Homo sapiens: one gene and its partners. The gene in region 1 interacts genetically with each later gene. Each region holds a gene or a part of one and is shown in the gene's direction. Other genes may lie near its edges.

Region 1 (3,174 bases):
GCCTGTCTCTGCCTGGAAAACTGGTCTTCCCAAGGTAAGACCTCATGCTATGACAGGACCACACTGTCTTCCTGTGCCTATCTGTTCCCGGCCTTGATCAGTCTCTAATGTCATCAGCATTCTGATCCCAACCTGGGGCCATTATCTCCATGCTGCAGAAGAGGAAATGAGGATGAGATTCTTGGCTTGCCAAGAAGGATCACTGAGTGATCCAGGCGGTGCCTTTTATTATTGATTAATGTCAGCAAACAGCCATGCCTTACTGCTGTTTCCACTGTTTAGAGTTGGCTGGAGGGAGTTAGGAGAATCTCGATCCTTTTAACTTGTAAGATATTTATAAAAATAAGTTCTAATGGTAGAATTATACAACTCCTGGTAATATAATCTTGGCAGAATGAATGTGCTGCTTTAATCTTCCACCTGTAATAGTAGCCAGGTGCTTATTTGAAGTCTCAACAGTGAATGTGTCACAAATGATGAATTGTTTGACATTTCTAGAGGAAGCAGCACTTATGCAAATCACTTCAGCAGTCACTTCCAAGGGGCTCTCCTGAAACAGGGGGGCCAAGGTGGAGACCTCTAGTGCCAGTACTGTTGCAGCTTTTTCTCTCTACACTCTTAAAACTAATGTTCCATCAGAAGAGATTTCCATCTGCCATGCAGATAAGCTCTTTGACTCCTTAAAAAGCTAACAAACTTTGCACAAAAGGAATAGAAACTGGATTGTAGAGTGTGACGTCACTAACCTGTGAAACTGCATTCCAGCTCCACTGGCAGCCACTTCTCCATGTTGGGCATCGGAGACATCGTTATGCCTGGTCTCCTACTATGCTTTGTCCTTCGCTATGACAACTACAAAAAGCAAGCCAGTGGGGACTCCTGTGGGGCCCCTGGACCTGCCAACATCTCCGGGCGCATGCAGAAGGTCTCCTACTTTCACTGCACCCTCATCGGATACTTTGTAGGTAAGAGAACCAGAGAGACTGCAGATGATCCTCGCTCTGGCTGTCCTCCAACCTTTGGAATTAAATCAGGTCTTCTAGCTACAGTTACTGGATGGAAGGAGAGCAGGAATTCTGGGTGCTGTAATAGACAGCCTGGCCCGTGAGATGCTAAGTGTTTTGTGTACTGGATAGGCCAGTTCCCTCTCCAGCTGTGTATCTGAAGAACGTTGTAGGAAAAGCAGGTCAGTCCTCAAAGCCAAGGACACACAGCACACAGTGCAGTGGATTAGTCTGTGCTTAAATCTTCCTCTAGAGTTGAATGACTGTCGTATTTATTTCCTACTTTATTCAATAGATACTTACTTACATTCATTAGTTCTACATTTCTGCCACTCTGACCTAGGCCAAGTTTTGTAGCCAGCTCATGTGTAGGCAGACAGGAGATGATTGTGATGGGGCTGGGAAAAGCAGTAACCTGCCCGCACATGCAACTGCTCCCGCACAGTGACTGGAAAGGAGCTTTTGCACTCCGTACGTCCTCCTCAACCCCAGCACTGTCCTCGTCCCACAGCAGTTCATTCACATGGGTTCATTTCAGTCCACAAACTCAGAGGGGCAAGGCAAGTGGCATTATCCCCATTAGACAGATGAGCAAGCTGAGGCTCAGAGAGGTGGAAGGTCTGAACTACATTTATGTTAGCTATTGTGAGTAGCAGAGTTGGAACTTGAACCCAGGTCTTCTGCCTCCCAAGTCCAGCATCACAGGAGACAGAGGCACACTTGGAGCTGGAAGGAGGGTTTGAACCCAGGAACCTGAGCAAGGAGTGAGACTTGGGTCAGTCATGTGTCCTTGGAGTTGTAGGTGTTTTTTAAAGCTGTGCTGATCCACATTTCTTCAACTGCCCAAGCTGGGCATTTCACACCCCAACCATAGAATGGACGACAGCACATTAGATCTGTACAGTTGCAGGACTTTGCCCAGCAGCAGCCAGGTGACACGGGTTCCCTCTCGTGTCTCACAGATGCCTCTCTCTCCTCACAGGCCTGCTCACTGCTACTGTGGCGTCTCGCATTCACCGGGCCGCCCAGCCCGCCCTTCTCTATTTGGTGCCATTTACTTTATTGCCACTCCTCACGATGGCCTATTTAAAGGTGAGAGCAGCAGTTATAAACCTGTGAAAGCAATAACTTGGATTGGCCTGTGCCTCGGTTTGCACTCTCCTCGCTGGAGGTGATTCTGCTTAAGCCCCTGAGTGAGCTTGTGATCTCGACTGTGTGTGTGTGTGTGTGTGTGTGTGTGTGTGTGTGTGTGTGCGCGCGCGCGCTACCCTGGCGTTAGCAAACGCTTCCAGATTCGTGCAGCCACTGACAGAAAATGCTGATGAGCTAGACCACTACACCACCTGGTCGAGGAATAACTAATTGAAAGCCCCAGAGCCCAGCTGAGGGTACTTCCTGCTTCTGTTCAAAGCAGTGCCCTCCTGCCACCTAACAGCTTAACACTACGTTAAAGTTTGGGAATAATTAAGATTGAATAGTGTTGAGGCAGCATATGATAAAACCAGAGTTCAAGAGCACATTATTTCCCAGATATCTATTCTCAGCCCCGTTTTACAGATGAGGAAGCAGATACAGAGGTCAACTTACTTGCCCAGCTCACTTGACTCACTACCTCTAGAGAGTTGATAAAAGCCCTTTTCTTGCTCAGGGAGCCTAAAAGCACCCCTTCTAGGGAGTCCTCCTAAAAATAGTGGGTTATTTTTGAATGGGTAAGATTTAAATGCTCTTTGGTTTCCCACAGAAGCAATCTGATCTCAGATCAAGCATCAGAAAGGGGCCAGGGGCATGGTGGCTCACGCCTGTAACCCCCGCACCTTGGGAGGCTGAGGCAGGCGGGTTAAGAGTTCAGGACCAGCCTGGCCAATATGGTGAAACCCTGTCTCTACTAAAAACACAAAAATGAACTGGGCATGGTGGTGAGTGCCTGTAATCCCAGCTACTCAGGAAGCTGAGGCAAGAGAATCGCTTGAACCCAGGAGTCGGAGGTTGCAGTGAGCTGAGATCTCGCCACTGCACTCACTCCAGCCTAGGTGACAGAGTGAGAACCCATCTCAAAAAAAAAAAATATCAGAAAGGGGCCAAGCGCAGCAGCTCATGCCTGTAATCCTAGCACTTTGGAAGGTCGAGGCAGGAGAATTGCCCGAGCCCAGGAGTTTGAGACCAGCCTGGC
Region 2 (3,500 bases), on another chromosome or scaffold:
ACAAGAGCGAAACTCTTATGTCAAAAAAAAAAAAAGTTTATGCCAAAGTGCAGATCTCTTTTCTCTTGGTGGCCAGTAGTTGTGTATGTTGTGGGGTATGTGATAGTTCTTTGATCGGTTTTGGTAAGGGCTCAAGAAGAAGGGGCTTGAATGAGTGTGGTTTTGAGATTGTGGTGAGTGAATGCCTTGAAGGCCACTGATTTTTGTGTGGCAGATGTTGAGCTCTTTTCTGTTAGGTGCAGGAAGGTAGGTTAGCATTGAAGGGTGCATGAAAGCTCTGATCAGCCTGTGTTTGGCTTAAATGCCAGTCATTGGTGGAGGTAAAGGATGAACCCGTGTTTCAGCATCTACACTCCACCATTAATTAGCATTGTCAGTTCTTAGAATGAGTCTGAATCTGCTAGTTTGGTTTGCCTTCTTTCAGTTTAGGCAATTGTATTCCTAGACTATGAAGATTTTTGTTTTTCTTACTTGGTCCCCAGATGTCAGTATTGAATATGGTGGTGAGGCGTGACCCTGGCAACACTGAACCTGTGAAAGCCAAGGAAGAGCTCATATTTCACTGTGGATTCAGGCGCTTCCGAGCCTCACCTTTATTCTCTCAGCACACTGCAGGTTAGCAATGGGGAAGCTGGGTTCTTGTCCATCTTGTCTTTTGGGAAAGTGACTTGTGGTGGAGGGGTGCCAAAATATATGGTTTCAAAATCTTACATCTCTGGGTTAGAGGTATTTTCAGTACTCTGGCTTAAGAGCCAATGATGTTTTTATTCAAAATGTCTGAACCTGTCTGAAGCATCCCAGTGATGCAACTTCTGTGTGATACTGAGGCTTTTTTGCCATGAGTATTTGTTCCATAGCAGGTTTTGAATAGAAGTTGGCAGCTTTATAAAAAGGGTATTAGGGTGGGTGCAGTGGTGCAGTGGTTCACACCTGTAATCCCAACACTTGTGGCATTAGAACGGGGAATTGAAGACCAAAAAAGGTAAGATTTAATCTTGTTTTTGTTTCTGTTTTTTTTTTTTTTTTTTTTTTTTTTTTGAGACGGAGTCTCACTCTGTCGCCCAGGCTGGAGTGCAGTGGCGCGATCTAGGCTCACTGCAAGCTCCGCCTCTCAGGTTTACTTACACCATTTTCCTGCCTCAGCCTCCCAAGTAGCTGGGACTACAGGCGCCCGCCACCATGCCCAGCTAATTTTTTGTATTTTTAGTAGAGACGGGGTTTCACCGTGTTAGCCAGGATGGTCTCTATCTCCTGACCTCGTGAGCCGCCCGCCTCAGCCTCCCAAAGTGCTGGGATTACAGGTGTGAGCCACCGCGCCCCCTCTTGTTTTTTTTGTTTTTTTTTGTTTGTTTGTTTGTTTGTTTTTTTGGAGACGGAGTCTTACTCCGTTGCCCAGGCTGGAGTGCAATAGCGTGATCTCGGCTCACTGCAACCTCCGCCTCCCGGGTTCAAGCAATTCTCCTGCCTCAGCCTCCCGAGTAGAGTAGTTGGGACTACAGGCATGCACGACCATGCCCAGCTAATTTTTGTATTTTTAGTAGAGATGGGGTTTCACCATGTTGGGGTTTAGTAGAGATGGGGTTTCACCAAGACCAGGAGTTCAGGCTGGTTTTGAACTCCTGGTCTCAGGTGATCCGCCCACCTCGGTCTCCCAAAGTGCTGGGATTACAGACATGAGCCAATGTGCCTGGCCTCTTTTTTTTTTTTTTTTTTTTTGAGACCGAGTCTCACTCTGATGCTCAACTGGAGTGCAATGGTGCAATCCAGGCTCACTGCAACCTCTGCCTTCCAGGTTCAATCAGTTTTCCTGCCTCAGCTTCCCGAGTAGCTGAGATTACAGGCACCCGCCACCACGCCTAGCTAATTTTTGTATTTTTAGTAGAGACGGGGTTTCACCATGCTGGCCAGGCTGGTCTCGACCTTAGGCGATCCTCCTGCCTTGGCCTTCCAAAGTGCTGGGATTACAGGCGTGAGCCACTGCGCCTGGCCAGTCATTCTTTTATTGTTTCAAAATGGTTTTGATTTTTTTTTTTAGGATGAACTATTTTCATATTTTATACAGTTGGGAAAATAAGGAATAATGTAAAAGTAAAATTACCTTATATTAGAGAAAATTCATTTTTATTTTATACATTTTCATCCAGATCTCATTTTTTTTCTTTACACAATTTGGATTGTAATTGTAAATATGGTGTTAAACATTGCATTTATCACTTAATTGATTTTGATCAATTTTCCATAAGATTAATTAGTTAATGAGACTTTTAATGCTTTATTGTCATTTGGATATATTCCAGTGTATGTGATGTACTGATACTTATTTGAGCTTCTACGGGTGAGCACTTAGGCTATTTCTAATGTTTTGCTCTAAACTAGATCTGTATGCATAAAACTTTATTTACTTCTTTGCTTATTTTGTAAAGGCAGATCCTTAGAACTGGAACTAAATAAAAGTCTCAGTTGCAGAGACTGAGGCAGGAGGATCGCTTGAGGTCAGGAGTGTGAGACTCCGGTCTCTACAATTTTTTTTTTTTTTTTTTTGATATAGAGTCCAACTCTGTCACCAAGGCTGGAGTGCAGTAACATGATCTCAGCTCATTGCAGCCTCCCCGTCCCAGGTTCAAGTGATTCTGGCGCCTCAGCCTCCCAAGTAGCTCGGACCATAGGTGTCTGCCACCACGCCCAGCTACTTTTTGTATTTTTAGTAGAGATGGGGTTTCACCAAGTTGGCCAGTCTGTTCTCAAACTCTTGACCTCAGGTGATCCACGTGCCTTGGCCTCCCAAAGTGCTGGGATTTATAGGGATGAGCCAACATGCCCGGCCTCTACGAAAAAAAAATTTTTTTTTTTGGGAGATGGAGTTTCACTCTTGTTGCCCAGGCTGGAGTGCAGTGGCAGGATCTTGGCTCACTGCAACCTCTGCCTCCTAGGTTCAAGTGATTCTCCTGCCTCAGCCTCCCAAGCAGCTGGGATTACAGGCGTGTACCACCATGCCTAGCTAATTTTTCTATTATTAGTAGAGATAGAGTTTCACCATCTTGGCCAGGCTGGTCTCAAACTCCCGACCTCAGGTGATCCACCCGCATTGGCCTCCCAAAGTGCTGGGATTACAGGCATGAGCCACTGCGCCCGGCCAAAAATTTTTCTTTTTAATTAGCCAGGTGTGGTGGCATGTGCTTTGCAGTCCCAGCTACTTGGGAGGCTGAGGCAAGAGGGATTGCCTGAGCCAGTGGGCCCAGGAGTTTGAGGCTCCAGTGAGCTGTGTTCACACCACAGCCCTTAAAATATTTTATTTTCCTATAAGTTTAGTATTTTTAAAAGGGGGGTGAGGGCTACATTGAAGGTAGAACACCAAATACAGTCTAGCCTAGATAGCAGAGTGAGACACTGTCTCTCAGAATTTAAAAGGGTGTGATAAAGTGTGGAAACTTTGATGTCTAGTGTGCCAAGGGCAGTGTGGGTGAAGGAATGGAGGCTGGGTATGGCTCATAGTTGGGTAA
Region 3 (3,500 bases), on another chromosome or scaffold:
TTTTTTTTTTTTTGAGACAGAGTCTTGCTCTGTCACCCCGGCTGGAGTGCAGTAGCATGATCTTGGCTCACTGCAACCTCTGCCTCCTGGGTTCAAGCAATTCTCATGCCTCAACCTCCCTAGTAGCTGGGATTACAGGTGTGCACCACCACGCCCAGATACATCTCTAGTATCTTTACTAAAGACAAGCTTTCACCATGTTGGCCAGGCTGTTCTTGAGTTCCTGGCCTCAAGTGATCTGCCTGCTTTGGCCTCCCAAAGTGCTGGGATTACCTGTATGAGCCACTGTGCCCAGCCTTATATATCTATTAATTTTATTCCAGCAGCAGAAACTCAGCAAAGCTCTCCAGAGTTGGTTCCTCTCCCTGCATCCCAGAAGACTCCATCCTTCTCTACACCCCTTTTCTCTCTACCATAAATAAAGATTCTATTAGGGGTGCCATTTCTTCTGCTCTAAAATGGGAATATTAATCTCTTCATGAGACTATTGTAAAAGTGAAGAAAATAATATATGTGAAAGAGCTTTGCGTTCTCTAAATCACCATAGATTTTAAAGAATCGCTGGGCGAGGTGGCTTATGCCTGTAATCCCAGCTACTTGGGAGGCTGAGGCAGCAGAATCGCTTGAGCCTCGGAGGCCGAAGTTGCAGTAAGCCGAGATCGCGCCACTGCACTCCAGCCTGGGGAATGGGAGTGAAACCCTGTCTCAAAAAAAAAAAAAAAAATTATTATTATGACAGTGTTTAATTTTCTTGGTAAAGTCAGAACAGTGCTACTTTTGTGTTCTCTATTCTGACCCGCATGAGGTAAAGCTGAGAAAGTGGTATTCTGGTTCACAGTCTGTGGCCTTTGTCCCATCTTTCCTTTCCTAGGTGAAAATTAGTTCTGCTGTGCTTAAAGCTGCGGCCCATCACTATGGAGCTCAATGTGATAAGCCCAACAAGGAGTTTATGCTCTGCCGCTGGGAAGAGAAAGATCCGAGGCGGTGTTTAGAGGAAGGCAAACTGGTCAACAAGTGTGCTTTGGACTTCTTTAGGTAAAAATCTTTGGTATCAGTGCCTACTTGGTTGAAGCATAAAGGTTTAAATGAATAAGTGAACAGCCAGCTAATAATCTGGATTTTATTAGGAAGTACATAGGCTTTGAAATCAGACCAAGGTAAAACATTCAAAGGATGATAATTATTTTTGGTTTTGTTTTTATTATCTGGCAAGTTCTTTTATCTCCATGAATCTCAGTTTCCAAATTGTAAAATAATACCTATCTAGGTTTGCTAAGCAAGTGACTGGTGACCATTTTTGCTACAGCAAGGGGAAAGTCTTTTTGCTGTGAAAAATTTGAAAAGGCACGTAAAACAACCTATCACAGTCCTTTTTAAGCAGGCATTCACTAGGTTGTTGTCATTACTACAGAACACAGGTATGATGGAAAGAAAACTGTATGCGGAGTTAGGTTTTACGTAGGTCATTGTGCATGATACTTAAGTAAAAAAAAACTAAGCTGTGTAATTGTAGGAAAATGTTTTAACAAGCATATTAGCACTCTATTTAAAAGGAGAGAAAGTCAACTCAAAGGAAATTGGCTCTTGTAACTCTGAAGTCCAGAAATAGGCCTGGCATCAGGCAGGGCTGGATTCAAGGGCTTAAATAATTTCACAACTACTTGATGTCTTTTTGCCTCTCCTCTTTTCACAATCTCTTAGTTCTGGTTTTCTCTGTTGACCTCATTTTGGAAAGACTCTCACCTTGCTGTACCAAAAATGGCCACCAGCCACTCGAGTTGCTGTTCTGTTGATACTTGCTTAGCAAACCTAGACAAAGTGTGCCCTTTATCCAGAAGTGAGCAGAAGCTCCTGGACTGAGTCTAATTGTCCTGGCTGGCGGACTTCGTATACATATCATTGCATCACTTGTGCTTCAGGAGATAAAAAGCTCTGATTGCTCAGGCCTGAGATGGGGAGTGGACTTAGCTTCATCCAAACCACATTGCTGAGAGACAGGGAGGGGTTGTTCCCAAAGGAAAATTAGAAGGATGTTACGGAAGAATGGGGAATGACTGCTGGCTAGGCAGAAACCACCGATGTCCACTACAATGAAGTTAGAGAAAAAAAATAGATACCTTAGCACAGTAGCTGCTTTCCTCCTTTCTTGCTTCTGCTGTCTCTGTCCCTATGCAAAGATATTTTTGTGGTTATAATCATAGTATGTATACATTGAGAAATTCATTTTTCACTTGATATTATTGGAAACACTCTTCGAAGTTGCTATATAGTCTTCATGATCATCTTTTTTTTTTTTTTTTTTTTTTTTGAGACGGAGTCTCACTCTGTTGCCCAGGCTGGAGTGCAATGGTGTGATCTTGGCTCACTGCAACCTCTGCCTCCTGGCTTCAAGCGAGTCACATGTCTCAGCCTCCTGAATAGCTGGGTCTACAGGCCTGCGCCACTATGCCTGGCTAATTTTTTTGTATTTTTGGTAGAGATGGGGTTTCAGCATGTTGGCCAGGCTGGTCTTGAACTCCTGACCTCAAGTGATCCGCTCTCCTTGGCCTCCCAAAGTGCTGGGATTGCAGGTGTGAGCCACCGCACCTGGCCGTGATCATCATTCTTAATGGTTATATATTATTCCATCAGTGGATAAACCAACCATAACGTACCTGACCAATTCCTGTTATTGAACATCATTGTTGATTTCAGTTTTTGATTATTTTGGATAAATCTGCAGTGATTACCTTTGCGTATAGATCATTTTCATCAGTTAATAATTCCTTGGCATAAATTTCCTAACAGTGAGTTTACTCTATAAAGGGCTTTGAACATCATTATGGCTCTTGAACTGTATTGCTTTTTTTTTTTTTTTTTTTTTTTTTTTGTGATGGGGTGTCACTCTGTCGCCCAGGCTGGAGTGCAGTAGCACGATCTTGGCTTACTGCAAGCTCCGCCTCCCGGGTTCGCGCCATTCTCCTGCCTCAGCCTCCCGAGTAGCTAGGACTATAGGGCACCCAGTACCACGCCCAGCTAATTTTTTGTATTTTTAGTAGAGACGGGGTTTCACCATGGTCTCAATCTCCTGATCTCGTGATCCACCTGCCTTGGCCTCCCAAAGTGCTGGGATTACAAGCGTGAGCCACCGTGCCCAGCAAATGCTTTTGTTTTTTAAATGTTGGATCAATTTATGCTGTCCTCAGCGCTGGATTCTGGTATGCATAGTATTTAAATATTTGGGAGGTGCAAATATTTTTGGATGTTTCAATTTGCATTGATTTGATTGCCAGCGAGATTGAGTCTGTGTGTGTGTTTATTTAAACAATTTTTCTTTTTTTTTTGAGACAGAGTCTCACTCTGTCACCCAGGCTGTAGTGCTGTGGCGTGATCTTTGTTCGCTGCAACCTCTGCCTCCTGGGTTCAAGCGATTCTCGTGCCTCAGCCACCTGAGTAGCTGGGATTACGGGTGTGTGCCACCTGCCTGGCTAATTTTTGTATGTTTAGTAGAGATGGGGTTT
Region 4 (3,500 bases), on another chromosome or scaffold:
CCCTCACCTCAGGTAATCCACCCACTTCAGCCTCCCAAAGTGCTAGGATTGTGGATGGGAGCCACTACGCCCAGACTAATTCTTCCCTTTCAGATGCTATTAGATCAGGCATAGCAGTTACTTCAGTCATATATCCTCTATTAAATAGTTGTGTCAGAAAGGCAAGAATTTGCAAAATACTCTAGACAGCAGAATGAGAACCCCAAATTTTTAGATATAAACGTCTGTCAGCACTGGTAGTTTGCTTCTCTGTTAGTTTACAGATAAACTTATTTGATGTCTTAAACCAGGGTTTCCCAGACTGAACCAAGGATCTCTGTTGTGAAATGAAAGTATTAAGACTCAGGCTGTGCACAGTGCCTCACACCTGTAGTCCCAGCACTTTGGGAGGCCGAGGTGGGAGGATTGCTTGAGCCCAGGAGTTTGAGACCAGCCTGGGCAACATGCCAAAACTGTATCTCTACTAAAAATACAAAAAATTAGCTGGGCATGGTGGTACATGCCTGTAATCCCAGCTATTGAGGAGGCTGAGGCACAAGAATCACTTGATACACTTATTGGGAGGCAGAGGTTGCAGTGAGCCGAGATCATGCCACTGCAGCCCAGCCTGGGCAACAGAGTGAAACCCTGTCTCAACAAAAAAGAGAGACAAGGTTTCCCCTGTTGCCCAGGCTGGAATGCAGTGGCGTGATCAAGTAACTTCAAAGTCCTGGGCTCAACCAATTCTCCCACTTCAGCCTCCCAAGTAGCTAGGGCCACAGGTACATACCACCATGCCCAACTAATTGTTTAGTTTTTGTAGAGACAGGACCTCGCTATGTTGCCCAGTCTGGTCTAGGCTGGAGTGCAGTGGTGGAATCTTGGCCCACTGTAACTTCTGCCTCCCTGGCTCAAGCAATCCTCCACCTCAGCCTCCAGGGTAGCTGGGAACTACAGACACACGCCACCCCAGCTAATTTTTGTATTTTTCATAGAGGTGAGGTTTTGCCGTGTTGCCCAGACTGGTCTCAAACTCCTGAGCTCAGCTGGGCACAATGGTGCATACCTGTAATCCCAGCACTTTGGAAGACCAAGGTAAGTGGATCACTTGAGGTCAGGAGTTCGAGACCAGCCTGGCCAACATGACAAAACCCCGTCTCTACTAAAAATACCAAAAAAATTAGCCAAGCATGGTGGCGCACGTCTGTAATCTCAGCTACTTGGGAGACTGAGACAGGAGAATTGCTTGAACCCGGGAGGCAGAAGTTGCAGTGAGCCAAGATCACACCATTGCACTCCAGCCTGGGTGACAGAGCAAGACTCCGTCTCAAAAAAAGAAAAAAACTCCTGAGCTCAAGTGATCTGCCTGCCGCTGCCTCTGAAAGTCCTGGGATTACAGGCATGAGCCACCATGGCTGACCTGCAAATGGCTTTTAATGTGCCTTTTCAAACACAAATAATGAAGAAAACTATCTGCAGCCCCCTTATTATTTTTTTGTGAGCTGCTATGTATCATTTCTATTTTTTATTTTCTTGTTATTCTCTTTTTTTCCTTTGAGACGGAGTCTTGCTCTATGGCCCAGGCTGGAGGGCAGTGGTGCAATCTCGGCTCACCACAACCTCCGCCTCCCGGATTCAAGTGATTCTCCTGCCTCAGCCTCCCGAGTAGCTGGGATTACAGGTGCACGCCACCACGCCCGGCTAATTTTGTATTTTTAATAGAGATGGGCTTTCTCCATGTTGTTCAGGCTGGTCTCAAACTCCTGACCTCAGGTGATCTGCCCGCCTTAGCCTCCCAAAGTGCTGGGATTACAGGCGTGAGCCACCGCGCCCAGCCTCTTGTTAAGAAAGAAGTTTACAAGTTTTGTGTCCAATTTGTACCTTCTTTATTCTTTTTTAACCAGATTTTGATTCCTTAAATCTTTGCAGAATCTTGTACTTCTGTCTTTCCTTTTCTATTTTTCTCTAGTCTCTCTAGGAACTTGTCATCCTTAGAAGGGATTTATTATAAATCATAGGGATAAATTATAAATCCTCTGTGTTATAAGCATAGGGGATTTATAACTTTTTCTCATTCTCTGCTGAATATTTGGGAGAAATAAGGAAATTGAAGACCAGAATTTAGAAAGAGGTTCTTCAGCCACTTTACTTGCTCCTAGAATGGGGTGACCATTTTGCATTTAATGCATGCATACTTACCACTAGGACATAAGGTCACGTATACCATTACTTTAAGCGGAAATTGCTACTGCCCACAAGCCTTGATAAGGAGAGCATATATTTTCTATCTTGGTATTGAATCAACATGTTTTCAGGTTCACATTAATTTTGACATTTAGGGAATGCTGCTGACATAGGAAAGTCTCATACACCTATAAAGTTATTTTGCCATTACTGTAGATTAAGTTGTAAAACAAGGGTAGAGCCATCAGATTGAAATTAATTTAGACAGGAAGAATCTATATAAATTTGATGCATAGCAAACTCTGACATAATTTGGTTTATTTTGAAGTCTGGCATATTTTTCATCACTTTTTATTTTACGGGTAAATCATAATATATCATATTTTCAATAAAAGTATTTTCTTAAAAATCTGCCATTTGCTTCACAGATTTTAAATCTTCTAACAGAAAAAGAAGTAAATATTGTTTTGCCAACACAGTCCATTGTTCCAAGAACTTTTGTGCTTAAACCAGGAATGGTTCTGTTTTTGGGTGCTATAGGCCGCATAGATTTCCTGCAGGTAAGAAAAGTCTGTACTATTAAAAAATGATTTTAAAATATTGGGATTCACTTTAAGGAAGCAGATGTATGAACACGACTGACAAAATGTTGATAACTAAGCCATGATTGTATTGGGTTTAATTTGTTTTTATGTTTAAAAATTTCTGTAATAAAAACTTGGGGATGGCTGGGCACAGTGGCTCACACCTGTAATTCCAGCACTGTGGGAGGCTGAGGCAGGCTGATCACTTGAGGCCAGGAGATCAAGACCCGCCTGGTCAACGTGGTGAAACCCCATCTCTACTAAAAATACAAAAATTAGCTGGGCGTGGTGGCACACACTTGTAATCCCAGCTACTAGAGAGGCTGAGGCAGGAAGATCACTTAAACCTGGGAGGCGGAGGCTGCAGTGAGCTGAAATTGCACCACTGCACTCCAGCCTGGGTGATGGGGCGAGACTCCATATCAAAAAAAAAAAAAAAACTTGGGGAAAAGAAATGCCCTACTCCCTCATCCCCCCAAAAAAGTGCTAGGTCTTGAAAACTTACGTTTTCAATTGAGTACCCTACACAGCTTGGCATTTAAGACAAGATACTATCCCTATTCTATGGGATAGAGTCAAACCTATGGGATAAAGTCAAACCTTTAGGTACAGGGTTATAGGCGTTAAATTAATTCCACACTTTGTATACCATGATATGTGTGTTTTTATGCATACACGTTTTTGTTTGGTATTCGTTTATATAGCATCTAGGGATTTTGGAGTGTCTATAGAATTGCTCTCCATTTTGCTAAA
Region 5 (4,204 bases), about 120 Mb from region 1:
GGGAAGCCACCCATGGGCAGGAGAGCATTTCAGGCCCAGGGAAGAACACGCTTTCATGGAGATGGAGAAGCAGGAAGTATGTTTATGGGGAGGTGGGAGCCTCTTTTGCTTGACAGTGGGATGTGTGGGAGGCACCAGCATGAGAGGTCAGAGGCGGGACTCCCCAGAGGTAAAAGACACTGCAGCTCAAGCCTTGTGCTGCCCGGGGACCCGGCAGAACGGACAGAAGGGAGTGAGCAGGAGCATCCTTCTAGGGGCATCCTGAGTCCAGGGGGTTCTTCTACACCCACCCCAGTCCTGGCTGTGAACCCCTCCAGCAAAGCAGGCAAAATGGAAGAGGGACATAGGACACGGTGATATATCGCTAGCACGGTGCTTCATCTGTCTACAGGCAGTGGACGCAAAGGAAGGGGGATTTAGGGTTCGTGCTCCAGGCTGGTGGGGCCCTGGCTCCCCTCTAGCTTGGTCCCTGACTCACTTGGCCTTCAGATCAGCCACTTCCCATCTCTTAGGATATCAATTTTTCTGACTTGCTTTGTCCTGATTGGTTAAGAAAGAGGCCTCCAAGTTCTTGAATGACAGTCTCTTCCCTTCGCATGCCTGACCCATCACAGATAAGAGCAAGGAGCCCTGAGAAGCCAAGCTCGTCCCTGGCACTGAGAACGGTCTGCAGGCTGCTGCTGCAGGCTGCCCTGTGCCCAAACTCCCAGCCTGCCAACTCTGGCATTCTGCTTCCCTAAGTAGTCCTGGCGTCGGGTGGTCAGACCCTGAGGCTCAGTGACCTCTGCATGACCATGTGATCCCTGGCTTTGTGGGGGCTCAGGGCCCTTTCCTGTAGGGTCATCTGGCACATGGACATGCCTGTGTACCCTTCTTTCGTATGACCGAGAGAAGGGTTCGGTTTTTCCTTCTCTCAGGCAGGATGGGAGACTCTGCCTCGCATGTCTCTAAAACAGGAGAAAGACCAGCTTCCCAGGGGGGCCTCCATCGGAACAGAAGTCAGCCGCTTGCTCTGTGTCTGCGCCTGTCCCTCTTTCCCCAGATGGAGGGGAAGAGAGGAGAGAGGCACAGAAGACAGGTGCAGCCGGGGGGGTGAGGGAGAGCCTGGAGGCGCAGGATGGAAGATGGAGGTGGTGGTGAAACCGCTTTCCTCCTCCCTGTGGTCGGCAGCGATTCATCCACAGGCGCCTTTTTCCACTGAAATGTGAGCGTGGCCAGGGTGAGCGCTGCCCTCGCGGCCGGCCGTGGTGCCTCTGGTGTGCGCCTGTGTGTGCTGCTGCCGCTGTCATCACAGATGCACCCCAGCTGTCACTCCCCGCTCCACTCTGGCTCGCTGCTCGCGCACACGCGTGCGCTCTCCTCCCTCGCCCCTTTCTTCCCTCTCTCCTCTCTCTCTCTCCCTCCATCCCTCTCTTTCCTTCTCAGTTTGTGACTGACCCAGCAGCCCCGTCCCCCGTCTGCCACAAGCAGTCCACCTCCTGGTGCTGTGTGCTGCGTGCCAGCCGCTGCTCCCGCTGAGTGGAGACTCTGGCACCAGTGCCCACTGCGCTCTGCCTGCCGGTGGTGTCTGGATTTCTATAGGAATCCCAGGAGGGTCTTACTGGAGGGTTGAGAGCCACCTGATTGAAGGCGTTTGCAGTCAGAGTAAAGACGGGTGAGTACCGAGTGGCTGGTAGGAAGGAATGGAGGGTTGGTGGGGACAGGGGGTGGTCGGGGCATGGGAAGTGGGCACCGGCCATCTCTGCCCTGCAGGAATAGCTGCAGTTGCTTCCTACCTGCAGGCAATTGCTGGGGCCGAAGAAGCTGCTCGGGCTCAGGCACCTGAGCATCCCAAAGGTGCACGACACTGGGAACTCTGAGCCCACAGTGCTGGGGACAAGAGCTGTGGATTCTGCTGGGAAGTGGGGAGGAGGGCAGCGCTGGCGCCAGATGACAGTCCCGGGTGGCATAGAAACCGGTCCCTGCAGCATGGGAGAAGCAGCCAAGAGCCTTGTGCTGTCGTTGTGCCCGGCTCTGCACAGACAGCCCCAAGAAACTCGGGGGTCATGGGAAGCGGTTGGGATGGCAGTCAGGTGCTGGGGACAGGGCCAGGTCAGAGGAAGGCTTGGGGTGGAGGGTGGCAGGGAGGAGGTCCTGGATGTCAGAGGCATGGGCACAGACCCAGGTCCTGGGCCTCCCTATAGCTTGCCTGCAGGTGGCTGTCCTTGGACAAGGGTGTGGAGGAACCCTCCCCCAGATGAGCATGGGCCCACTCAGCTGTGCATGAAGCCTCCCTGGTGAGGGTGAGGCTGGGAGTGGGCAGGAGAGAGAAGTATCGCAGCCCTTCCCTGCTAGCCCAAGGGCAAGACAGGAGAACCAGGCCCGCGAGAACCTGCTGGGGTGTCCCGCAGCTGTGCACCCAGCCGTCCATCTGCAAATGGGTCAGGGAGCCTTAGTGGGGGCTGGACACTGAGCTTGGGTGGGGGGTACACAGCGGGGCCAGGCCTGCCTGGCTTCTTGACCCACACAGGGGGCATGGACACCCTGAGTAGAGCGGGACAGTTGCTCTCAATCCCCCAGACCCATTTGGACAGTGCTGGAGAGAGGAGCAGCCTGACCAGGAGTCGGAAGTTCACATTCCTGCACCTCCCTGCAGGTCTGGGGCTGGGTTCCAGTTGGCGGCCCTGTCTCTCCCCCACCCCCAAGCTGTCCACATTTCTGGGGGGTGTTGGCACCCGGCTGTCAGGGCTACTTGGGCAGTGTCTCTTTGTGACTCAGATGACACCCCTGCAGCTTAGATAACTGCCTCAGGTGGGGGCGGGGAGGGAGCCGAGCACGTGGAGCTGAGGCGGGGGAAGTCCAGCTGGTAGGGAAACCCGACAGCAGCTTCCGAGCTGCCAAGAAGAGCCCAGCTTTTCCCACCCCCACCTCCCCACCGGCAGAAAGAAAGTCTCAGCACTGCCAAAAGAGGGAGACCAGGAAAGCCAGGCCCGCGGGGAGGGGTAAGGAGAGAGGCTGCTTAAGCAGCCGATCTGGTGTCTTTGGGGTTTGACAGAAGCTTGTCTGGGCCCACGAGGAGCAAACTCTGCTCCCGTTTCCCAGGCACCAGAGCCCAGGGGCCGCCTCTGGGCTGCTATGGCCTCAGTGGGCAGTGTAGGAAGGAGGAGGGGATGGCATGTATGTGATGGTTGGGGGTGTCTGGGAGTTCTGGGGGTGGGCAGAGGAGAAAGGAGCCAGCATAGAGGCTGTCTGCCCCTCTGGTCTTCCTCCTTTTTCCCCCAGCCAAGCCTCCTGTGCCCTGCCTGGGAATACCACCCTGAGCCCAGCCCCAGGGACACCACCCTGAGCCCGGCCCCAGGGCCCAGTGGACACCTTAGCCTCCTTCATGTCAGGGACCAGCTCCCATGAGGGGCCACTCAGGAGGCTTCTCTGTTCTGCTTCCCAGAGGGTCTGTTTGAGATTGAGAATATTTGACAAGGAAACGGGGGTGCAGGAGGCTGGGGGTGAGGATGGGGCATGTGTTTTAAAATGAACCAGGAGGGTATATGGCTGTTCCAAGTACAAATATAGAGATTTTTAAAACCTGGTTCCTTGCTGCCTGGGCAGTGTGTGTGATGGGGGTGATGGGCAGCTGTCCTAGAGGGCCTGGGTGCCCAGACAGGCAGCGGTAGGCGGAGCCCAGCCTAGACGGCTGTGGCAGCCTCCCCTGCGTCCTGGCCACATGGAATCTCGGGCCGTCTTTGGCCCGGGGCTCTGGCTGGCCACTCTCCGGGCTCCCTCTCAGCCTTCCTGGGGTTGGTGGAAGGGCACGGCCCCTGCAGGCCCAGGGTGTGGGCCCAGTCGTGGCTCTGCTTCTCTCTGGCCTTCTGCAGAGTGAAGGGGGCGGCAGAGTAGGCTGCAAATGCCCCCTTTACCCCTGAGTTCTGTGACTCTTCCATGCTGAGGGGTATGGACTCTTGACCAAGGGGAGATGCCAGGGGAGTGGGCACACCCTAGGGCTAGTGTGATGGCCCAGGAGTCAGGAATTCAGAGGTGGAGGCCCGATGGGCATTATCTGGCTGTGTGTCTTGGATGCTTGATGTGGAGGGATAGACATGCGCAGAAGCCTGAGAGGAAGGGTGCGGACACCAGGTCTGTGGTGAGTGTGCTGGAGGTTTCTAGCTAGAGTCTGAGACTGATTAATTAACCTCCATCTGAGGAGAAATGGAAGGGGCAGGTGCATGGA
Region 6 (3,500 bases), on another chromosome or scaffold:
AGACCCAGACTTGGGAAGGTCCAGATACTCCGATATCTGGAGAGCAAAGGCATTCCTAATTTTGCTTTAAAAATAATAATGTTGGCTGGGCACGGTGGCTCACACCTGTAATCCCAGCACTTTGGGAGGCCGAGGCGGGTGGATCATTTGAGGTCAGGAGTTCGAGACCAGCCTGGTCAACATGGTGAAACCCTGTCTCTACTAAAAATACAAAGATTAGCTGGGCATGGTGGTACATGCCTGTAATCCCAGTTACTCAGGAGGCTGAGGCAGGAGAATTGCTTGAAACTGGGAAGTGGAGGTTGCAGTGAGCCAAGAGCCCACCACTGCCCTCCAGCCTGGGCAACAGAGCGAGACTCTATCTCAATAATAATAATAATATCAATTCTTGGATAATGTAGTAATTAAGAAAATTAATCCTTTATCACAAACCCTTGTAGCAGAGCACATGTCCCCATATATACAACGCATTGAATGCATTCCTTCCTTCTCTGACTTTTGGGAATGTCCTACTCTGTCTATGGAGTAGCTGTCCTTTCACCACTGTACTTTCTTAATAAACGTGCTTTTCCTTTGCACTGCAGACTCAACCTGAATTCTCTCTTGTGCAAGATCCAAGAACCCTCTCTTGGGGTCTGGATCGGGACCCCTTTCCTGTAACATGCCTTCTGTCAGAGGAAGATTATGGGACTCAGAATGTCAGATAACTCCCCTGTGGAGACTGAGCAAAGGCAGAGCGGGAGCTGGAGGCTTCGGAGCTCTGCCCCACTGCTGGGGTGGCGAGTGGCCACTGCCCTCTGCAGAATCCACCCACATGGGGGTGGTTCAGGTGCAGCAACTCCCAGGGACAGCAGAGCCCTGCCCGGGGCTGGGGATGGGCCATCAGGGGGAGGACACTGCAGCTCTGAAAAAGGCGATGCCAGCAGGGAAGGAGAGGCAGTGATCAGGGCAGGGAAACTCCAAAGCCCAAAGCAGCTCTTCGTGGCCAGTTAGTTTTCCTGGGGATGCTCCCTCATGGCTCCTTCCCCATCCTGTCCCCACTCCGGGGACTCTACCCTGGCTTAGACTACAAGAAGATGGGACTGTGGGGGCAGCCCAGGCAAGAAGGGAGAGGGTGGATGAGCTCAGAGACCTCAGCTTTGGCTGAGTGGGAACCGTGCTTTTCTTAGGAATTTCCTCATCTTGATTTCTTTCCAAGTCACTTCATTTCTCTCCTCTCTCGGCCCCTCCTTGGCTTTGGCCATCTGCTCCCAAAAGGAGGCCATGGGGTGGGTGGGAGGGGTGGGGGGGAGGGAAGGAGTTGTCGATGGGATTTTACTAAGTGCCAAGCCGCCTGAAACCTCATTTAATCCTCCCCAAGGCCCTATGAGGTGGGTATGTTTGTCTCATGTTACAGATGATACAACTGAGGCTCAGAGAGCTTAAGGGACTTGCCCCCAAACCCATCTAAGCCCCCTGAGCGGCTCAGCCAGAATTCCAAGCTCTGGATGAGATGTTGTGTTCGCCCTGCTGGTGCAGCCTTTTAAAAAAATTAATAGACTTTATTTTTAGAGCAATTTTAGGCTCACATAAAAATTCAGCAGGAAGTACAGAGGGTTCCCATAGGCCCTTCTGCCCTGCATGCACTTTCCCCTCTTATTAACATCTTGCATCCATGTGGGACATTTGAGGTGCAGCCTTTTTTTCAGAGATGCTGGGTTCTATTGCCCTGAGGCAGAGCCCTCAGCCTGTCCCCAGAGATCAGGACTGTGCGGTTGAGGGGCAGGGGAGGAAGCCTGGCTGCTTTCCTCCTAGCGGGAGCTGTGAGACGCTAGCCAAGAAGGGATCTTAGTAACACAGGGTGAGACATTCTGGGGAGGGGCCGCCTAATCTCCTCCCTCATCTTGGATCTGGGAAGGCTGCCCGGTTGAACCTGACTCTATTGTCCCAGGAGCGGAGGCTGGGCCAAGTCCTCCTCTTCTCCTCTCACCAGCCTCTTTTCCAGGTTTGGGGTGGGGGAGGTAAGCGCGGAGGAGGCTGCTGGTGACCAAAGGATGGAGTATCCAAGCCAGCCCCATGTTAGAGATGAGTGGCCTCAGAGGGCTTCCCTGGAGGGCCAGTGGCTGCTTGGCCTGGCCCTGCCTGGGGAACAGAGCCCTATGCCAGCTGACCTGTTGATCAGCCCCTGCTTGGTTTTCAATTGAGTCTCTTTTTCTGGGCCCTCAATCCTGCTGCCAGGAACACTCCATCCCAGCCCAAGAGGGGCTCCAACCCCAGGGGTAGGCCCAGCCTCTGATCCTCCTGTGTGTGTGAGCAACAAGACACACGCACGCACACTTCACACCCTTCCTCTCTGCTCCAGAGTCACACTGGTGCTACGAGGTTCAAGCCGAGTCCTCCAACTACCCCTGCTTGGGTGAGTACAGCCAGTCCAGGGGACTGCTCTTTGTGCATGGTGGGCACCACGCAAGCCGAAATGGAGACCCCGGAAGAGTGGGAAGGGGAGGGGTGATGGTGGCTTCCCAGGCAGATATCAGTTCCCAGCATACACACACACACACACACACACACACTCTCTCTCTCTCTCTCACACACACACACACACAGATATACAAACACACACACTCACACAGAAACACACACACAACACACACACAAGCACACACTCAAACACTCACACTCACACATGCACACACACACTCACACTCACACAAACCCACACTCACTCACACACACAAACACACACTCACACTCTCCTGTCCTGGTGCTCAGGGACCAGGGAGCATAGAGTGACCTGAGTCTTCACTGGCACCTGCTGTCATCGAGAGGGCATGTTCCCTGTGGAATAAATCGGTAGCAGCATTAAAGGAAGAAAGGCGTTTTGCTGTTTCCCATAATAAAACGGGGAGTTGTTTCTATCCCAGTGACACCCCTTGCAGGGTGCCTGAGTGATGGTCCTTTACGCTTTTATTTGAATGCTGACCAATTCGAATGCAAACCCTGCAGTCTGCTGTGTTTTGGTGACTGAGCAGTGCTGCCCGCTCCTGACCCTGGCCCACCTGGTGTTGGGGTCACCAGGGTTCGGGGAACCAGCTCCTCCAGGGTTACTCCTCTCCCTCCCATTCCTCAGATGATGCTCAGCGCCCTTCATCAGCAGCCCCCCCGGGGGTCCCACTCCACAGTTTCCAAAGCCCTCTCCATCCACCTCCTTTAAACTCTCTGACATCCCAGGGAAGCGGATTATCTCTGCAGTTCCCATTTTACATTTGGGAAACCCAGGGCTTGGAGAGGCCATGTGCACCACCTCATGAAGTTGTCCCTACCCCGGAGCTCACAGTCAACAGTTGGCAACCCTGTTCCCACCCTGTTCCACACTGGGGCTAGACTCCCCAGCCTTGCATGTATGTTTCTGTGGAGGAGGAGGAGGAGGGCCCAGGGAGGGCGAGAGTGGAGTTCGGAGCTGAGCATCCCTGCAGCACAGCCTTCAGGCCACCCCAAAGCGTTTCTGTGTGGGAACTGAG
Region 7 (3,500 bases), on another chromosome or scaffold:
CTCAGCCTCCCAAAGTGCTGGGATTACAGGCGTGAGCCACCGCGCCTAGCCTGGTGTCCCACCTTTATATCTCAAACTGTCTTTTTTCTCAATCCTTTGACTCCACCGGACTTTGTCACCCCCACGACCTGATGTTGGGTCTGATCACCCCAAGAGGTCCCATTTGTCAATTTTTGCTTTTGTTGCAGTTGCTTTTGGTATCTTCATCATGATACATGTAGATACGTGTGGTAAGACAGTGAAACTCCAGGGCCTCATATGACTCTATGGTGAGGCCAGAATCAAGTATGAAGGCTTCAAGATACATTCCTGAGAGTTAAGTGCCACATTTGCACTAAAGGGTGGCTTCAGGACCTGTTCTGTTTGGGTTTGGTAGGGACAGGGCAGTGGCCCATATTTTCATATTTTCATTACTGTAGTAGAAATTGTTGGTGTCTGTGGCAGGGGAGGGCACCTGTGGACGGTAAAAGAGGAACATATATTTTTATTTCCGTGGAGCAACTCATTGTTCCTGAATCTCTTCTGTTATAAAGGAGAAAGATGAGTGGACTTTTTGGTCTTGGTCCTTCTGTCTGTGAGTGTGAGGCTAGTAGGTAAGCAGGTGGTGCTGATGCCTTTAAGGGACTTGTCTCAAGATGCAGGTGTTACTTGTCCAGAGAATTTTATCTGAAAAGGATTTCTAGAGGAGGAGAAAGAGGAAAAATGCTTCTTTTCAGCTAAACATATCTCAGATCAAGAGCTGTGTCCACTCTGCCTCCTGGAGTGCCATGAGTTTAGTACTTGCAAACCTTTACTTCTCTACTTCTGTTTTCCCTCCCCAATGATTTTGTTTCACATACTTTTAAAAATTCTTGTGATAGTCAAGGATCTCTAAAAAATATTTCTATCCTATGTACGAGAGCCTTCTCTACATCATGGCTTCTTATATGCAATGCAGAATTCCTACCATGAATTTATGATCTGCCATATTAAAAGTGTTCCTTTTGTGGCTGCTGAACATGGGAAGATGTGGATACTCAAGATTCCTATTGGGGGAAAGCTGGGGTCCTTAGTAAAGATGGAGAACATATAATGTTGAGGTGTCGCTTGTGTTCTCCATTAGCTCTATGCAGAACAGGATTAAGAATATGCTTATTTAAACAGGATGGCATTTATTTATTTATTTATTTATTTTTATTGTTTGAGACAGAGTCTCGCTCTGTTGCCCAGGCTAGAGTGCAGTGGCGCAATCTCAGCTCACTGCAAGCTCCGCCTCCTGGGTTCATGCTTTTCTCCTGCTTCAACCTCCCAAGTAGCTGGGACTACAGGCGCCCACCACCACACCCGGCTAATTTTTTGTATTTTTAATAGAGACGGGGTTTCACTGTGTTAGCCAGGATGGTCTTGATCTCCTGACATCATGATCCGCCTGCCTCAGCCTCCCAAAGTGCTGGGATTACAGGTGTGAGCCACCACGCCCGGCCTGTTCAGGATAGCATTTATTACCCAGGAAGTTCTGGAGAAAATTATTCAGAGATACCTGCTTTCTAGGATGCTAAAGAAAGGACTACTTAAAATCATTACTAAAAATTATAGAACATGGGAGATATCTTGACCTTCGCATGAAACTGATTTTTTCTTTATGGTTAAATTCAGTCTATAATTGACTTTTTGAGGGGCAATATCTCAGCAGTGATGTTGTGTTCTTCTTTGTGCATCAGCACATCATAAAAATTTATTCTAGTGTTGTTGATGTTAATAATTTGCTTGGTTAAAGAGCTCTCTGACTTTTTTTCACTATAGAGTTAATTGTTTTTCTCTTTATTGTTAAGTATCTTTATGTAGCTAATAAACTATCACATTTAATCTGGCACCTGCCCTTTTTTCTTAGGTTTTTTTGTTTGTTTTTTGCACATATGTGTCTTTGGAAAATGAAGGCTCTTATCTTTGTTTACAGACCAAAAAAGTTGGGAAAAACACAATCTCTTTCACTTACTGAATGTCTGACAAAATAGTCTTCTGGGGTCAAAAACATTGGCATTGCTAGTAACCTTGTTAGAATTTTAAAAACTCAGACTTTATTCCAGATCTTCTGGGGAAAAAAAAAAAAAGCTTCACAACAGGATCTCCAGTTTATTGTACATATTTAAATTTGAGAGGTACCATCTAACTCAACATGTCTTTTTTTGTCTGAAAAATATACACAACTCATTATGATGTAAATATAGCACTCAAAAATGTATACGTTTGTGTCCTTAATTATATTCTTTATCATCCAGAAAAGTATTATATATGCACTGGTGTTGTGGATCTTATGCCATTCTCTGCCCTCAGAGTAATACATTAGAGAATATTTCTGTGTTAAAAATTATTGGATAATTTCAGTTATTCTTATAAGTCAACCAATTCTCTTTACTCTCTCATTTCACCTTAATTCAAATAATAAATTCTGCCCATGGCCACTTGGTAAATATACGTGTGTCTGTGCGTATGTGTTTTTCAGGAGACGTTGACATTTAGGGATGTGGCCATAGAATTCTCTCTGGAGGAGTGGGAATGCCTGAACCCTGCTCAGCAGAATTTATATATGAATGTGATGTTAGAGAACTACAAAAACCTGGTCTTCTTGGGTGAGAATAACTTTAATACATAAGTCTTAATATACCCTAAACGTTTTATGTCTCTTTTTTTGTAGAATTTTCTTTGGTAATTTATGCTTTGTATAAATGAGTTTCTGATCCCAGTTTTCAAGAAAATCTTGATGATTTGTCTCTGTAGAAAAGAATTTCTTCAACATGTTTCATCCTGACCTGAACTTTCCACATTCCTGAGCTGATCTGCATCCTTCACTCTAGATTAGTGGTAATTCCAGAAATTTGGTGGCATAAAATATTGCCCGTATCTTAAAATCTATTTTCCACTGTCAATTTTTGATTCATGAGTACCAGGTAGTGAAATTAAGGACCTACAAATTTAAAATATTTTCTAAATAGTTAGAGATGTGTCTCATTAATTAGTATTTTAGGATTAATTTTCTAAAATATTCTATTATATCCTTTTTACTGAGCACAGTACTAGGTTGGTAACTAGAGAATATAAGCAAGATTTATGCTATTTACTTTTAATAAAGCAGGTATTGCTGTCTCTAAGCAAGACCCGATCACCAGTCTAGAGCAAGAAAAAGAGCCCTGGAATATGAAGATATGTGAGATGGTGGATGAATCCCCAGGTAGGTGAGAGTGAACACAACAGATGACACAGATGAGAGGTACAAAGGTAAAAAAAAAAAAAAAGCAAGCCGGCCCTTACAATGTGATTTGGGAAGCTGTTTTGCAAAGTATATAGTTTCTGGGAAGACTGAATATTTTCTTAAAATTTTCTCTCACTAAAGGGCATCTTCTGTCTTATGCTTTTAAATTCTCTAAGAATTTTCCTTTTCCTTGGGTGAACACACAAATATCTGCATAATTTTGAAAAACACTGTTTTTTTTTGTTTTGTTTTGTTTTGTTTTTTGAGACAG

The links.
Region 2: changes in SPPL3 (region 1) and TSR1 together harm fitness less than expected from each alone (positive genetic interaction), as found in Homo sapiens cells (one large-scale study listed by BioGRID).
Region 3: changes in SPPL3 (region 1) and NDUFA8 together harm fitness less than expected from each alone (positive genetic interaction), as found in Homo sapiens cells (one large-scale study listed by BioGRID).
Region 4: changes in SPPL3 (region 1) and NOA1 together harm fitness less than expected from each alone (positive genetic interaction), as found in Homo sapiens cells (one large-scale study listed by BioGRID).
Region 5: changes in SPPL3 (region 1) and LRTM2 together harm fitness less than expected from each alone (positive genetic interaction), as found in Homo sapiens cells (one large-scale study listed by BioGRID).
Region 6: changes in SPPL3 (region 1) and CA4 together harm fitness less than expected from each alone (positive genetic interaction), as found in Homo sapiens cells (one large-scale study listed by BioGRID).
Region 7: changes in SPPL3 (region 1) and ZNF714 together harm fitness less than expected from each alone (positive genetic interaction), as found in Homo sapiens cells (one large-scale study listed by BioGRID).

What each region holds. Positions count from the first base shown.
Region 1 is NC_000012.12:120,765,185-120,768,358, reverse strand, and holds part of SPPL3 (signal peptide peptidase-like 3), read left to right. Parts: coding exon 1-34; intron 35-765; coding exon 766-965; intron 966-1,986; coding exon 1,987-2,096; intron 2,097-3,174.
Region 2 is NC_000017.11:2,326,458-2,329,957, reverse strand, and holds part of TSR1 (pre-rRNA-processing protein TSR1 homolog), read left to right. Parts: intron 1-482; coding exon 483-615; intron 616-747; exon of another isoform or gene 748-833; intron 834-3,500. UniProt on the Homo sapiens protein: Required during maturation of the 40S ribosomal subunit in the nucleolus.
Region 3 is NC_000009.12:122,149,780-122,153,279, reverse strand, and holds part of NDUFA8 (NADH dehydrogenase [ubiquinone] 1 alpha subcomplex subunit 8), read left to right. Parts: intron 1-871; coding exon 872-1,035; intron 1,036-3,500. UniProt on the Homo sapiens protein: Accessory subunit of the mitochondrial membrane respiratory chain NADH dehydrogenase (Complex I), that is believed not to be involved in catalysis. Complex I functions in the transfer of electrons from NADH to the respiratory chain.
Region 4 is NC_000004.12:56,967,607-56,971,106, reverse strand, and holds part of NOA1 (nitric oxide-associated protein 1), read left to right. Parts: intron 1-2,591; coding exon 2,592-2,723; intron 2,724-3,500. UniProt on the Homo sapiens protein: Involved in regulation of mitochondrial protein translation and respiration. Plays a role in mitochondria-mediated cell death. May act as a scaffolding protein or stabilizer of respiratory chain supercomplexes. Binds GTP.
Region 5 is NC_000012.12:1,819,161-1,823,364, forward strand, and holds the start of LRTM2 (leucine-rich repeat and transmembrane domain-containing protein 2 precursor), read left to right. Parts: upstream 1-1,404; 5' UTR 1,405-1,654; intron 1,655-4,204.
Region 6 is NC_000017.11:60,152,973-60,156,472, forward strand, and holds part of CA4 (carbonic anhydrase 4 preproprotein), read left to right. Parts: intron 1-2,341; coding exon 2,342-2,395; intron 2,396-3,500. UniProt on the Homo sapiens protein: Catalyzes the reversible hydration of carbon dioxide into bicarbonate and protons and thus is essential to maintaining intracellular and extracellular pH. May stimulate the sodium/bicarbonate transporter activity of SLC4A4 that acts in pH homeostasis.
Region 7 is NC_000019.10:21,095,703-21,099,202, forward strand, and holds part of ZNF714 (zinc finger protein 714), read left to right. Parts: intron 1-2,482; 5' UTR 2,483-2,566; coding exon 2,567-2,609; intron 2,610-3,109; coding exon 3,110-3,208; intron 3,209-3,500. UniProt on the Homo sapiens protein: May be involved in transcriptional regulation.